Homo sapiens: one gene and its partners. The protein of the gene in region 1 purifies or fractionates together with the protein of each later gene. This does not show direct contact. Each region holds a gene or a part of one and is shown on either strand. Other genes may lie near its edges.

What was found. Proteins that work in one complex are often made in the same cells at the same time.
Region 2: the proteins of POGLUT1 (region 1) and PIGT purify together in Homo sapiens (affinity purification with mass spectrometry; 2 studies listed by BioGRID and IntAct, with this or other methods). This does not show direct contact.
Region 3: the proteins of POGLUT1 (region 1) and PON2 purify together in Homo sapiens (affinity purification with mass spectrometry; 3 studies listed by BioGRID and IntAct, with this or other methods). This does not show direct contact.
Region 4: the proteins of POGLUT1 (region 1) and UBR1 purify together in Homo sapiens (co-immunoprecipitation; 2 studies listed by BioGRID and IntAct, with this or other methods). This does not show direct contact.

Annotation. Positions count from the first base shown.
Region 1 is NC_000003.12:119,475,463-119,478,962, forward strand, and holds part of POGLUT1 (protein O-glucosyltransferase 1 precursor), read left to right. Parts: intron 1-1,850; coding exon 1,851-1,986; intron 1,987-2,871; exon of another isoform or gene 2,872-3,012; intron 3,013-3,500. UniProt on the Homo sapiens protein: Dual specificity glycosyltransferase that catalyzes the transfer of glucose and xylose from UDP-glucose and UDP-xylose, respectively, to a serine residue found in the consensus sequence of C-X-S-X-P-C.
Region 2 is NC_000020.11:45,419,141-45,422,640, forward strand, and holds part of PIGT (GPI-anchor transamidase component PIGT isoform 1 precursor), read left to right. Parts: intron 1-154; coding exon 155-255; intron 256-332; exon of another isoform or gene 333-363; coding exon 364-450; intron 451-995; coding exon 996-1,083; intron 1,084-1,191; coding exon 1,192-1,289; intron 1,290-1,387; coding exon 1,388-1,553; intron 1,554-2,242; coding exon 2,243-2,443; intron 2,444-3,500. UniProt on the Homo sapiens protein: Component of the glycosylphosphatidylinositol-anchor (GPI-anchor) transamidase (GPI-T) complex that catalyzes the formation of the linkage between a proprotein and a GPI-anchor and participates in GPI anchored protein biosynthesis.
Region 3 is NC_000007.14:95,414,529-95,418,028, reverse strand, and holds part of PON2 (serum paraoxonase/arylesterase 2), read left to right. Parts: intron 1-1,731; coding exon 1,732-1,787; exon of another isoform or gene 1,788-1,840; coding exon of another isoform or gene 1,841-1,857; intron 1,858-3,500. UniProt on the Homo sapiens protein: Capable of hydrolyzing lactones and a number of aromatic carboxylic acid esters. Has antioxidant activity. Is not associated with high density lipoprotein.
Region 4 is NC_000015.10:43,022,539-43,026,038, reverse strand, and holds part of UBR1 (E3 ubiquitin-protein ligase UBR1), read left to right. Parts: intron 1-609; coding exon 610-658; intron 659-1,055; coding exon 1,056-1,210; intron 1,211-3,237; coding exon 3,238-3,337; intron 3,338-3,500. UniProt on the Homo sapiens protein: E3 ubiquitin-protein ligase which is a component of the N-end rule pathway. Recognizes and binds proteins bearing specific N-terminal residues that are destabilizing according to the N-end rule, leading to their ubiquitination and subsequent degradation.

The DNA of each region.
Region 1 (3,500 bases):
ATGTAGGCTAAATTCCTAAAAGTATAATAACTAGGGCAATTAATGTCATTTTAAAATCTTGATAAATAGGCTGGGTGAGGTGGCTCACGCCTGTTATCCCAGCACTTTGGATGGCTGAGACAGGCAGATCATCTGAGGTCAGGAGTTCAAGACCAGCCTGGCCAACATGGTGAGAACCTATCTCTACTAAAAATAAAAAAATTAGCTGGGCATGGTGGCCTGTGCCTGTAATCCTAGCTACTCGGGAGGCTGAGGCAGGAGAATCACTTGAAACCCGAGGTGGAGGTTGCAGTCAGCTGAGATTGCGCCATTGCACTCCAGCCTGGGCCACAGAGCAAGGCTCCATCTCAAAAAAAAAAAAAAATCTTGATAAACAGGCTGGGCACAGTGGCTCTCACCTGTAATCCCAGCACTTTGGGAGGCTGAGGTGGGAGGATCACTTGAGCCCAAGAGTTCAAGATCAGTCTGGACAACATACCAAGACTGTCTCTCCACACACACACACACACACACACACACACACACACACACAAACACATACAGAGTTGCCAGGTGTGTTGGCACACACCTGTAGTCCCAGCTACTCAGGAGGCTGAGGTGAGAAGATTGCTTGAGCCTAGGATTTTTGAGGCCACAGTGAGCCATGATCATGCCACTGCACTCTTCAGCCTGAGTGGCAGAGCGAGAGACCCTGCCTCAAATAAAAAAAACCTTAAAAAAAGAGAAATCTTGGTAAATAGAATCTAATTGTCCTACAAAGAGGCTAAACACTTCCACAACCGATATATCATATGCTGTGAATAGATCTCACACCCTTACCAACACTGCACTATTGGACTTTTTGATCTTTGCCAATCTGATTGGTAAAATTGGTATCTAGTTTCATTGACATTTCTTTATTATTAATACAGTTGAGCATCTTTTCCTATGTTTGTGAACTGTTGATATTTTTTGCAGTTATCTCCCTATATAAAAAACACTTTTTTTTTTTTTGGCTAGAGGAGCTCACTACATTGCCTACTGTGTCACTATGTTGCTGGTCTAGAACTCTTGGGCTCAAATAACCCTTCTGCCTAAGTCTCCCAAGTAGTAAAACAATATTTTAAATCAGTTATTTCCATGCTGCCAGAAAATTTTGATCAAGCCTTTGAATATTGCCCCTAGCATAGTGCTGGTCAGGACCTCAGAGGATGAGGCAGAAACAAGCTAAACTGTCAGTGTATCTTCTTTTTCTTTCAAGAAATCCCTGATTTCCCAGGGAATCTAGTCAGAAAGCTGTGTTACACTATTTATGATTATGTATATAACACTTTTTCTGGCTTGCAGAACTGATTTTGATAATGTTCTTTATTCAGGTTGAAGGTAATGAAAGGTTTTCTATCTGTTCTCATAAACTAGGAGACTTAATTATAATGGAAATAAAAATGGTGTCTTTGTGAGGAGCAAAGCCAAAGGAACACAGGTGGAAAATTAGCTATTTCAGCTATTACGAGAGTTTGTATCTTGTCTACTAATTAAACTATTCCATATAAGGGAAATAAAGAAAAGAACTGGAATGAATAAAGTGGTAGAAGTAGCAATAATACTCCCTTCAAAGCTATGACGATTTATTTGGAAAATTTTATTAAGTATTGTAAGCTGGAGCAGCTTAGCTATGAGTGAACTTGCACAATACAAAAAAGCAGAATAGCCCCTTTAGAAGCATTGTTTTCAGGAGACTTTGCAGTAGACTGATGATATGGAACACTGGAACACTGGCTTGTCTTACTTTAAAATGTGAATGGGACCTCGCCTTGTCCTAGAGCCTGCAGGCACTACTCTGCTGAATTTATGGTATGTCTGGTTGACAGGTGTAGTGGTGTTGAGCACTTTATTTTGGAAGTGATCGGGCGTCTCCCTGACATGGAGATGGTGATCAATGTACGAGATTATCCTCAGGTTCCTAAATGGATGGAGCCTGCCATCCCAGTCTTCTCCTTCAGTAAGGTAAGTACAGGGAGAGCCACATGGGTGGATGGAGAGTGGTCCTCTAGGATATGAGCATGAGATCTTTGTCCGGTGACATAGTCTGATGGATAATGGTAAGGATGAGGACTGAGGTCCAGAAATGGGTCTGTGTCTCTATTAGCATCACAGTGATTGAGCAAAAAGACAGAGGAGATGAAGTTGAGAGCTGGTAAGTAGTGTAAGATTGCTTGAGTGTCTATAGGGCTAGAGATGGAGGCTAGGGCGTGAGAGGCCTGAGAAACCTACAGGAATTAGAGGTGGGTCTTGAAGATCTTACAGAGCATGGGAGGAAGGGGTCCAAGAAAGCTTGGAGTTAGGGAACACCTTCATTCCAAAAGTTTGTTGAGCTCCTACTATGTATATATTCAGCCATAGTGCTGGGTATCAGCTGTCCCATCTGTCACCATATTCCGGGGGCCCAGGGTGGCTAAAAGTGAACCTGAAGGTGCCAGATAACTCCACACGGTGTGTGTACAAGCCGTGCATTGAAGGGATAGGCTGGAGATAGCCTAGAGGGCTATGCAAGGGGGTGATCTTTTAGACTCATCATGGAAGATTGGAGTAGCTAGGATACACCTGTGGGCTTGGGGAATTGGGGGCAAGGAATGTCTTGTCAGTGCTCAGGTTCATGTAAATGTTGTATCGGCAGGGATGGGCCTTGGTTCCCTAGAGACAAGGAAAGCATTTGGGGGTGAAGGCAGGAAGGCTAGAAGAGAGTGGATGGAAGATTCTATGGGGTAAGAGTGAATTGAGGAAAACCCCATGAAATTTGGGAAAAGGAACACTATTTCTGATTTGGTTTGTCTAAAGCAGAGGGACCTTTTATCCCCACTTTTTCTTTATCATAGTTTACTTTCTCCCTAGACTTGTTTTATTTCCTGTGTTGCAAGTGGGCAGAGGCCACATTTGTGTTGCATTTCCCATGGTCTAGCCTCATTTCTCGAAAGTGTTTGGTTCCATTGTTTGTCATGAAACTCACTCAGAAGAACAGATAGAGGCTCCCATGTAAGTCAGTAGGGACTTCGTGTTTGTTATCTATCTGTTGTTTCTATGGATAATAAAGTATGACCGTCGGTATACTAACTTTCCGTTCATCTTTACTTCCCTTCTGTTTTTTAAATCAGTGACTTCTAGTTTCCAAGGGAGAGTTTTACTCTGTCAACTTTATAGTTAATTGTGCAGCTTCTATTGAATAGCTGTTATGTTTAAGGTGCTTGATGAATCACATTTTTTACATATTTGAGAGACAGCAAACAGCATATTGCACATGTATTTCCAGTGGAAGAAATAGTAGAGTTAGAGGTTTATCAGTGGCCAGATTTTTAACAGAAGTAACCATAAAAAGGGAACAAATGGAGGCCAGGTGTAGTGGCTCACACCTGTAATCCCAGCACTTTGGGAGGCCGAGGCAGGTGGATCAAAAAAAAAAAAAAAAGGGGGGAACATATGGCTTTAAACTTTTTTCTTTTTTTTGAGGCAGAGTCTCACTCTGT
Region 2 (3,500 bases), on another chromosome or scaffold:
AGGAGAGAAGGGAGTCCTACTCCCAGTTGGGACTGTCCAGACTGTGGTGCTAGAGGTGGTGTGGGGAGCAGGAGGGTCATTCCCATCTCTGGAATGTGGATCCCGAGGGGTCAGAGCCCAAGGCCCACCCCAGACAGACCTCTGTCTCCCTCAGACACTGACCACTACTTTCTGCGCTATGCTGTGCTGCCGCGGGAGGTGGTCTGCACCGAAAACCTCACCCCCTGGAAGAAGCTCTTGCCCTGTAGTTCCAAGGTGAGGCCGCAGAGCCTGGCAGCCGGGGGCGGGGGGTGTATAGAGAACCTGCGCCCCATGCCAAGTGCTCCATACAGGGCTTCTCTTATCTCTTTCCATCTCCTCCAGGCAGGCCTCTCTGTGCTGCTGAAGGCAGATCGCTTGTTCCACACCAGCTACCACTCCCAGGCAGTGCATATCCGCCCTGTTTGCAGAGTAAGTCATGGGGAGTAGAGGAAGCTGCCATCCAGGGGCTCAGAGAAGGTACATGTAAAGCATGTGGTCAGTGTCTGGCTCAGGCTGAGTGAGTACTGAGTGGTAGATGTGATGACGGTTATTCAGGGCATTGGCCAAGCACCAAGAAAACAGTGGTTGCCTAGCAAGCACTGAATAAATATTTGTCATGGAAAATAGTGGTTCAGAACAATAGCTATGCGGGTGCAATTGCTAGCTCAGTCACTTGCCAGCTGGCGTAACCTTGGGTGAATCATTTCATTCCCCTGAGCTTGGTTTCCCACCCTGCCACATGACATTGATAGTAGAATCCACTCCTAGGGTTGTTGTGATAGTTTATCAAACTGATGCACATACAGCTGTCAGCACGGGGTCTGGCACGAGGTCAAGTGCTCAGGAGTGGGTGGTAGCAAATCGATGGATGTGAAGATACATAGATGAGGGATTGAGTCTGAGTAGGAGTCTTTTTGGGGGCTGTGTGGTGAGAGTGATACCCCCTCACTGCTGCCATCTGGCCCTTGTGATAGAATGCACGCTGTACTAGCATCTCCTGGGAGCTGAGGCAGACCCTGTCAGTTGTATTTGATGCCTTCATCACGGGGCAGGGAAAGAAAGGTAAGTTACCTTGGCAACTCATCTGTACCCACCCATGCCAGCCCTGCCTTATCTATGTGGACTAGGCCTAGGCCTGGCCCCTGCTCAGCCCTGCGCTCTGTTTCTCAGACTGGTCCCTCTTCCGGATGTTCTCCCGAACCCTCACGGAGCCCTGCCCCCTGGCTTCAGAGAGCCGAGTCTATGTGGACATCACCACCTACAACCAGGTAACAAGGTCTCCAGCCACACACACAAACACACCGCTGGTCCCCAGGACCAGCCTACCCTCTCTGCTTGCTTCTTAGCCCTGCCTTTGTGTCCCCAGGACAACGAGACATTAGAGGTGCACCCACCCCCGACCACTACATATCAGGACGTCATCCTAGGCACTCGGAAGACCTATGCCATCTATGACTTGCTTGACACCGCCATGATCAACAACTCTCGAAACCTCAACATCCAGCTCAAGTGGAAGAGACCCCCAGAGAATGGTGAGTGGGTGGTTGGTTGGACTGCTGGGTTGCAACGGCTACAGAGAAAAGACTCACAATCCCACGTCTTTGCCGTTAGATGATTGGGTTGTATTTAGACCAGATTTCCAGAGTCATATGCTGCTGACTGTAGCTATTCCAAGCTCTACGATTTTGGGTAGGTTCCTAAACTCCCCAAGCTTCAGCATCCACATCTGAAAAATAGAGTATACTTAGCAAATTGGATGAGATGATGTGAAAAATGGAGTTAGTTCATGCATTTGCTTAATCAACCAAATACTTTTGAATTCATACTAAGTGCCAGGCATAGAGTGTTGAATAAGACAGAGGACACTGCACTCAAGAAATATAAGTCTACTAGCTAGGGCAGGTGTCAGTTAATTAATTACAGTTGTGTTCAGTTCCCTTACCAAGGGAAAGAGCAGAATATCCTGAGAGGACCTGGATTGGGTTCGAAGGGGGCACGGTGTTCGTCACGTAAGCACTTCAATACTAGCAACCTATTGTCATCATCGCTTGTTGGCTGGGGAAGACAGGGATGATTCCAGAACCCAGATTGCCCAGTTTCAGTGGCAGGGCTGTTCCCCATCTACTCACTGGCTTGGGACTCTGAACATGGCCTGGGCAGGTGGGGTGGGGAGTGATTCTTACCTTTGGCAGCTGTTAACTGTTGATATTTCTTTACACAGAGGCCCCCCCAGTGCCCTTCCTGCATGCCCAGCGGTACGTGAGTGGCTATGGGCTGCAGAAGGGGGAGCTGAGCACACTGCTGTACAACACCCACCCATACCGGGCCTTCCCGGTGCTGCTGCTGGACACCGTACCCTGGTATCTGCGGCTGTATGTGCACACCCTCACCATCACCTCCAAGGGCAAGGAGAACAAACCAAGTGAGGACCTGAGTCCTGAACCAGGCCCCCAGCCCGCCCTCTCATGTCCTCTCCAGGTCCCCCAAACTCTCATTTCCCAGGGTAGTTCCTGAAGTACCTCTGAAAAGCTACACAGGCATAAAGAGTAAGGAATAGTTTCTCAAAACTGGAACGGGAGCCTCACTGTGCCAGGTTCAGAAGTAATTTATAAAACAGCAATAATTAAAACACATAATACTGGTGATTCTTAATAGGACTGTACAAGGACAGTAGCTTCCTTTTTCACTTACTTTTGCCTCCTTTCTGGAGCATTGGGTTTTGTGATGATTCATAGACTCTTTAAGGTAGGGAAAGGGTTTGGCAACGTTAGGCTTTTGAAGCTAGGAAGATAGCAGAGCTGGAGTAGATGGTGTTTTGCTTCCTTGGGAGGGGTAAAGAGGTACAGTTAATTAAATTTTTTTATTTCTATTTTTATTAAAATTTATTTTTATTTTCTATTATTTTTCTAAGGAGAAGATAATATTAGTGCTTCCTATTAGGTGCCAGGCATAGCACTAAAGCACTTGCCTTTCTTTGGTGTAGGGGGAGACTAGTAGTAAAGTAAAAGACCTCTGAGGAAGAGGTTGTACCATATCCCAAACGGCCAAACTTAAAAACCTTTCAGTACTTTAGTTGATTCCTATATTTTCAAACATACGGTGAATAGTTTCACTTATTTTCAGCACCATTATTTGTACCACCTTCAAAATCTCTATTTCAGACATCCTAACTGCATATTCTATAGGTTTTTCTGTTATTATTCTTTTAAATCTTCTCCTTTGGAAAATTTCAAACCCAAACCCAAACAGAATAGTGTAATAATCCCCTGTACACACCCTGCAGCCTTTTTTTTTTTTTTTTAAGAGACAGACTGTTGCTCTGTCAGCTATGCCGGAGTGCAGTGGCATGATCATGGCTCATTGCAGTCTCAGACTGCTCGGCTCAAGCAATCCTCCTACCTCCGCTTCCCTAGGACTACAGGCATGAACCGCCATGCCTTTAATTTTTTCACAGAGGCAGGGTCTTGTTATGTTGCACA
Region 3 (3,500 bases), on another chromosome or scaffold:
AACAGAAGTTACAATATGGTTGAAATAAATGTATTTTTTTAAAAAAAGATTTCTCTTTCCTTAATTATTAAAAAATATACAATTTTGTAGAAAATTTTAAACAAAGTATAAAGAAAAAAATAAAAATCATTCATAATCCTATCAAAGAAGCATTGTTAATTTTTTCTATATATCTTCTTTTTCCACGTGTATACTTGGAAATTAAATTTTCTAAAATAATTTTCAGGAAAAACAAATTTTAATTAATTGAGCTTCTACTAAATAGGACTGAAAAGCAAAACCTGGACTAGAATTCTCTCTCGGTGTGTGTGTGTGTGTGTGTGTGTGTGTGTGTGTGTCTGTGTGTACATGTGTATGTGCTGTGTATACATGTGTATGTGGTGTAGCGTTCCCCTGATTCTTAACTTATTACCAGTGGACAACCACCGTGGAACTAGAGTCTAGTCATTCTTAACCTTTTTGGGGGAATCACAGTCTCTTTTTTGAATCTGATGAAAATCAAGGACCGTTTTTACAGAAACGTTCTCATCTGTGCATACATGAGACATTTTGCATTGCATAGAATTTCCGAGGGTTCACAGATACTTTGAAGCCCAAAAGTGATCCACAGACCCCAGATTGAGAACTCCTCCGCTATGCCATGCTTAAGCTTATTTCTGTGTATCTTCTTTCTGAGGAGCAGGCAGATGGGTCATCTTTACAATGTGAAGTTCTTGGCATTTTTATTTTGTTTTGTTTTTCTGCACTACGATGGAGCAAGCAACACTGGAGGCAACTGGCTAAATGCAAACTCATGAAGCAAGACCAAAATGGCTGGATAGATAGATGCTGTTTGGTTTTGACAACCTAGAAATAACCTTGAAGAAATCCTATGGAGAAGTCTTAAAGAGGAAGATTGGATTTTGTAGACTCAAAGAATGTGTCATGGTTTGGCTTAATCTAAGCCATTTTTATTCTTCTTTTCTTGTGTTTGGGTCTATTATCTGTCTGTAGAATTTATACAGTGAGACTGCTGGGGAAAGTCTTATGTCTAATTATTTGCTGTGCTGTGTGGAGTGTACTGCAGACAGTCAATAAACAATCAATAGTAATTGTAGCCTGCCTCAGAGACAGGAGTTAGAAACTTCAACTGGCTTAGGTGCATGGTATTTTTCATTAATTTTCTTCTGCTAGTTTTTTTCTCTAATTTAAAGCCTAAATTTAAAGATTAAATAGAAAAGCTTTCTTTGCTTATGAGCACAAGTAGGCACTGTTTTTAAAAGAAGGAATATATAATCCCAGGTGTTTTACCTCTGTTAATGAGAAAGATGTCTGTTTGCTTCAGATTGAATGAGCAAAGAAGAGGACAAGGATATTTGCATGGTTAAATGCCTATGAGCCCTTCCTTCAGAAAGTAATATTCCCCTGATGTCAATTACTTTTATACGGACATCTGGATGTTTATCATGAGAGTGTACAGATGTCAACTTTTTCAGTATTATAGCTGGAAATGTGGTGATAACTTGACTTTGATTTGAGTAAACATAAAATATCTAACATTTAAAGTCAGAAGTTCACTTCAGGAAGGGGTTTAAACTGACATTTATTAAAAAGAATGGTTCCTTGGAAAAAACATCAGAACCATCCCTAAAGATACAGTCACTCTGATAAAGTAAACAGAGTCCCAGTTATGCTCTGTGTAACAAATAACAGAACTTGAACATGACATTTATCTGTTCCTTAAACTTACAGAAGCTGGCTCTGAAGATATTGACATACTTCCCAATGGTCTGGCTTTTTTTAGTGTGGTGAGTGTCTTCTTCCTTCCCCAAATTCAGCAGAGGAGATACAAGGGTATTTGATGAGGGCTGCAGAACAGTAAGTTGCTTTTAAAATTCATTTTCCAAAATGCATTCTGAAGAAAAGAGAGGTCAAACAAGATCTTGGAAAACTTCCTCCAGCTTTTCTAAATGTAGAGATGAAGACTCTTTGCCCATTGAGATAGTGTTCTTTATTTCCCCATTGCATTGCACTAAAATATTCCAATGCAATCTGTGTTTTGTTTTGTTTTTTCTTTTTTAATTTTTTTTATTTTTTGAGACGGAGTCTTGTTCTGGTTGCCCCGGCTGGAGTGCAGTGGCATGATCTCAGCTTACTGCAACCTCCGCCTCCCGGGTTCAAGCAATTCTTTTGCCTCAGCCTCCCGAGTAGCTGGGATTACAGGCGCCCGCCACCATGCCCGGCTAATTTTTGTATTTTTAGTAGAGATGGGGTTTCGCCGTGTTGGCCAGGCTGGTCTCAAACACCTGACCTCAGGTGATCGCCTGCCTCAGCCTCCCAAAGTGCTGGCATTACGGGAGTGAGCCACCACGCCCAGCGCAATCTGTGTTTTAAATGTGCACTATTAAGAGGGATATTTGAGGTCTTACTGTGGATACTCAATACTAACATTATACTATTTTAAATACAGCATCTACTCATCTTTCTATTACTATTCAACTTGAAGCAAATATTCTTGCCATTATTATTTATTTTCAAATATTATACCAACCTTGCCCTTTTGCTTTCTTTCTTTTTTCCCCTGAATAGCCAATCATAAGTGGAAAGTCATTGAGTTTATTTACACCCTTCATTTTGCCTTGATTCTTGTAAGCTGAAAAACAATATCCTTTCTGGGTATACAATAGAAAGACTTTAAAAACAATTGGCTTGTGAATATTGTTGTGAATATTGTTGAAACTAGCTTGTAACAATGTCCATTCTAATTGGAAATCCAGATAAGGGGACAGATGAGGAGGTTCTGACCACCTACCTCCCTGGCTTGGGCAGACATAGGAGTTCTTGGCATCTTCATAGGTCCAGTTTTTCTGGAGGAAGAAGTAACCAACTCTGACACCTGACTGTAATTATTCCATTTCCTCTCAACATCCATTATTTTCAGGCTCTGAGACTCAAGAGGGATGTGAAATACTGGGAGATACTTAGAAGGGAGTCACCACACTAATAAAATAGTTGTTAGACTTATGAGAAAGGTGAGAGAACTCAGGTTGGAGTAGAATGAGAATTAGAACACTCTTCAGGTTCCTGATGGTTTTTATGTGAAAGACAGTGAGCAGCTGGTTATTACCACTGAGGCAATAAAGAGATACTGTGGGCTTTAGCAGAAACACCAGTATATGTATTTAGTTTTTAAAATAAGGTTTTAAAAGGAATGTTTTATTTAATTGCCTACACAGAATGAATAAAGTGATATTTATAGTAGGACTCTGGGTTTGTTTAGGAGCACATGCTTGCACATGTGTGGCTTAGGAAAAACCACTGGGACCACTAGTCTAAAATATTCATAAGTAAAGATGCAAACATTCTGAATAAAGTAGAAGGCAGTTGCATTGATTTTTTTATTTGTTTATTTGTGTTTTTTGTTGTTGTTTTGCAAGGATGTGTTCTTGGAGATTTTTATAATCTAGAATTCACCTATTTCAAGATTTCTCTCCAGCCCCCATAGTAATAAATCTGAAGTA
Region 4 (3,500 bases), on another chromosome or scaffold:
GCTGGTCTCAAATTCCTGACCTCAAATGATTCCACCCACCTCGGCCTCCCAACGTCCTGGGATTACAGGCGTGAGCCACCTCGCCCGGCCAATAGTTTCCTTTAATTTAGAAGATAATTCTTTTGCATTTTTTTCTTTTGTAACATCGGCATTTCTATAGAGTACCAAATAGATTCAGCTTAAACAGTTTTTGGCAAGAATACTATGTAAATGATATATTGCATCCCATTATTAGGCACATACGTCTTTTTGTCCCATGAAGGATCATGTTAAGTTTGATCAGTTAGTTAAGGTGATGTCTGGCTTTGTCCTTATCAAGTAAATACTTTACAGCCCATAGCATAGTACCCTGTGCATAATAGGTACTGGGTAAATATTTTCAGTAGAAAATAATGGAGACTAAGTTTTTGATCAGGGATATTCCTCATCTATTTTGCATTAGGTTTCTCTAGAACACAATTTTATTTCTAGGACAAAGAGGCATTTTGAATACATGCTTCAGTATATAAAGTATTTTAATAGGTGGTTGGGTCTTTCCTGACTGCTTTAATGTATTTCATTTGTTTCATGCTTCCAAAGCAGTATATTTAATGATAGATTTTTTTATAGGCTGAACATATGCAGAAGAAAAGGAGAAAACAAGAAAACAAAGATGAAGGTAAAAAGTGAGATTCTGAATTGACTCATTTTGACTATTTTCTGTGGTTTCACATCAGCAAAGCATATAGTTTTTTGTTGTTGTTGGTTTTTGAGAGTGGGCAACTCAAGGAAGTGCAAAGAGCTTTTTGCTTCTTATTCACATATTAAGATATGGTATATATCAGTAGTGATTGAATTTAAAATTGATAACAAATGTAGTTCATTTTGGGTGACTGATATAGTACTTACATTACACTTAACATTGATATTTTCAGTACTGGAAAGGTAGCAAAAAAGCATGTGTTGTTTTGCATGTAACCTATTATTTTTTGACATTTGCACTTTAGTATGTAGGATAACCCAAATAAAAATGTACCTGTTTGTCTCTTTCCCCATCCATTCCCCACCTCCTATAGCATTGCCGCCACCACCACCTCCTGAATTCTGCCCTGCTTTCAGCAAAGTGATTAACCTTCTCAACTGTGATATCATGATGTACATTCTCAGGACCGTATTTGAGCGGGCAATAGACACAGATTCTAACTTGTGGACCGAAGGGATGCTCCAAATGGTTTGTTTACCTGAAATATTTTCTCTACATCAAGTCCTAGAGTTCTTGGGGAGCTAGGGAAGATCTCAGGTCTAACTTCAGTTGGAACCACATCTAGAGCACCGGAAACATAGGGGTCATTAAAAATAGCTTACACACAGCACAAATTTTTTTTAGTGATCTCGTGTTTTTAGCATCCTTACTCTTGGGAACCATTTCTGTTTAATAAAACCCATGAAAACAAAAACAGGTGTACTTATGCTAATAAATTGACATGTTGTTATTGTGTCATGATTTTTTATATTTTTAATTTTACTTGAATTATAAGGAGACAGTATAATAAAATTTGAAGATAGGTCTAGACGTCAGTCTTGGGTTTCCCCACTTCCTATTTAAGGAGCAAATAATAATTTTCTCATTAGTAAAATGGATAAAAGTGTAATTATTCATAGAGGTAGGAGAATTAGCTAAAGTGAAAGCAGCTACTTTTCCTTGTTACTGTTGTAGATAAATACACGTTACTTAATTATGCCACGTCATGGTAGTTGTAACACCATATTTATTTATACCTGCCTAACTAAATGTTCCTTTTTCCTTGAGTATTGTTGGTCTACAGGTTCTAAATGCTGTCATTGCCATATGTGTGCCTCAATTTTTATTATAACACTGATAAATACATTCACTAGTAAATTTCAAACCATAGAGATATGTTTGAAACCAAGTTAAAATTTCTCTCCCTGAGTCCCAGTATGCTATATAGGACATAAGCATTGTTAAAGTTTTGTATATTCTGGAAATCATTGCACATTAGTGCATATAGATCTACTTATTCTTGATAGCTGCGTAGTCCATTGTATGGATATAATGTGTTTCAGTAGTCTCCTATTAATAGACATTCAGGTGTTTCTAGGTCTTTGCTGTAACAAAGAACAATAAAATGTACGTTCTTATACAAATGTTTTTGCATACCTAAGGGAGCGTATTTGTCATACTAATTCCTAATAGTTGGTATATACCTTTACATTTTTGATAGATGTTTTCAAATTGGCCTCCAAAAATGTTATACCAGTTTACTTTACCATCACCACTATGGTCAAAAGTGCCTACTTCCCAATACCTATGCCAGCTCTATATTTTACTAAACACCAAAATTTTTGCCACTGTAATAGGTGAAAAATAGGATGATCTTGTTTCAACTCATTTTTCTTTAAGTGAGGTTGAACTTTTTTTTTTTTTTTTTTTTTTTTTTTTGAGATGGAGTTTCACTTGTCACCCAGGCTGGAGTAGGCTGGAGTGCAGTGACACAATCTTGGCTCACTGCAACTTCCGCCTCTGGGTTCAAGCGATTCTCCTGCCTCAGCCTCCCAAGCAGCTGGGATTACAGATGCCCACCACCACACCTGGCTAATTTTGTATTTTTAGTAGAGACAAGGTTTCACCATGTTGACCAGGCTGGTCATGAACTCCTGACCTCAGGTGATCCACCCACCCAAACCTCCGAAAGTGCTGGGATTACAGAAGTGAGCCACCAGCTCCGGGCCAGGTTGAACATTTTTCATATGTGTATTCATCATTTCTCTTTCTGTAAACTGCTTAATGTGAACTGCTGAAACCTTTCCGTGTTTTTTACCTATCAGCTTTCTTATTTTTATACTTCTACTTAAAATAGATTTACCTTGCTAGGCATGGTGGCCCATACCTGTAATTGCAGCACTTTGGGAAGCTGAAGCAGGAGGATCACTTGAGCGCAGGAGTTTAAGACCAGCCTGGCCAACATAGTGAGATGCTGTCTATACCCCCCGCCCCCTCCAAAAAAAATTTAGCTGGGCGTGGTCGTGTGCACCTCTAGTCCCCAGCTACTCAGGAGGCTGAGGCAGGAGGATCACTTGAGCCCAAGAGCTTAAGGCTGCAGTAAGCTAGGATTGCCCCACTGCACTCCAACCTGGGTGACAGAGTGAGACCAGTCTCTGAAAAAAATTAAAATTAAATTAAAAATATATTTACCTGAAGAAGCGCAATTTTAAAGATCTCTTATTTTCCTCCTTCAGGCTTTTCATATTCTGGCATTGGGTTTACTAGAAGAGAAGCAACAGCTTCAAAAAGCTCCTGAAGAAGAAGTAACATTTGACTTTTATCATAAGGCTTCAAGTATGTTTGAGTATCACTCTTCAACACATTTGTCATTGAAAGTCTAGATCTTAAGGAGTTTTAATTTGTCAATCCTGAAAGTTTATATCTTACAGAGTTTTAATCTGTCAGTCCTTAAAACATAGGTAACCCTGAAATAATTTTTTTCCTAGCATTCTTAGTT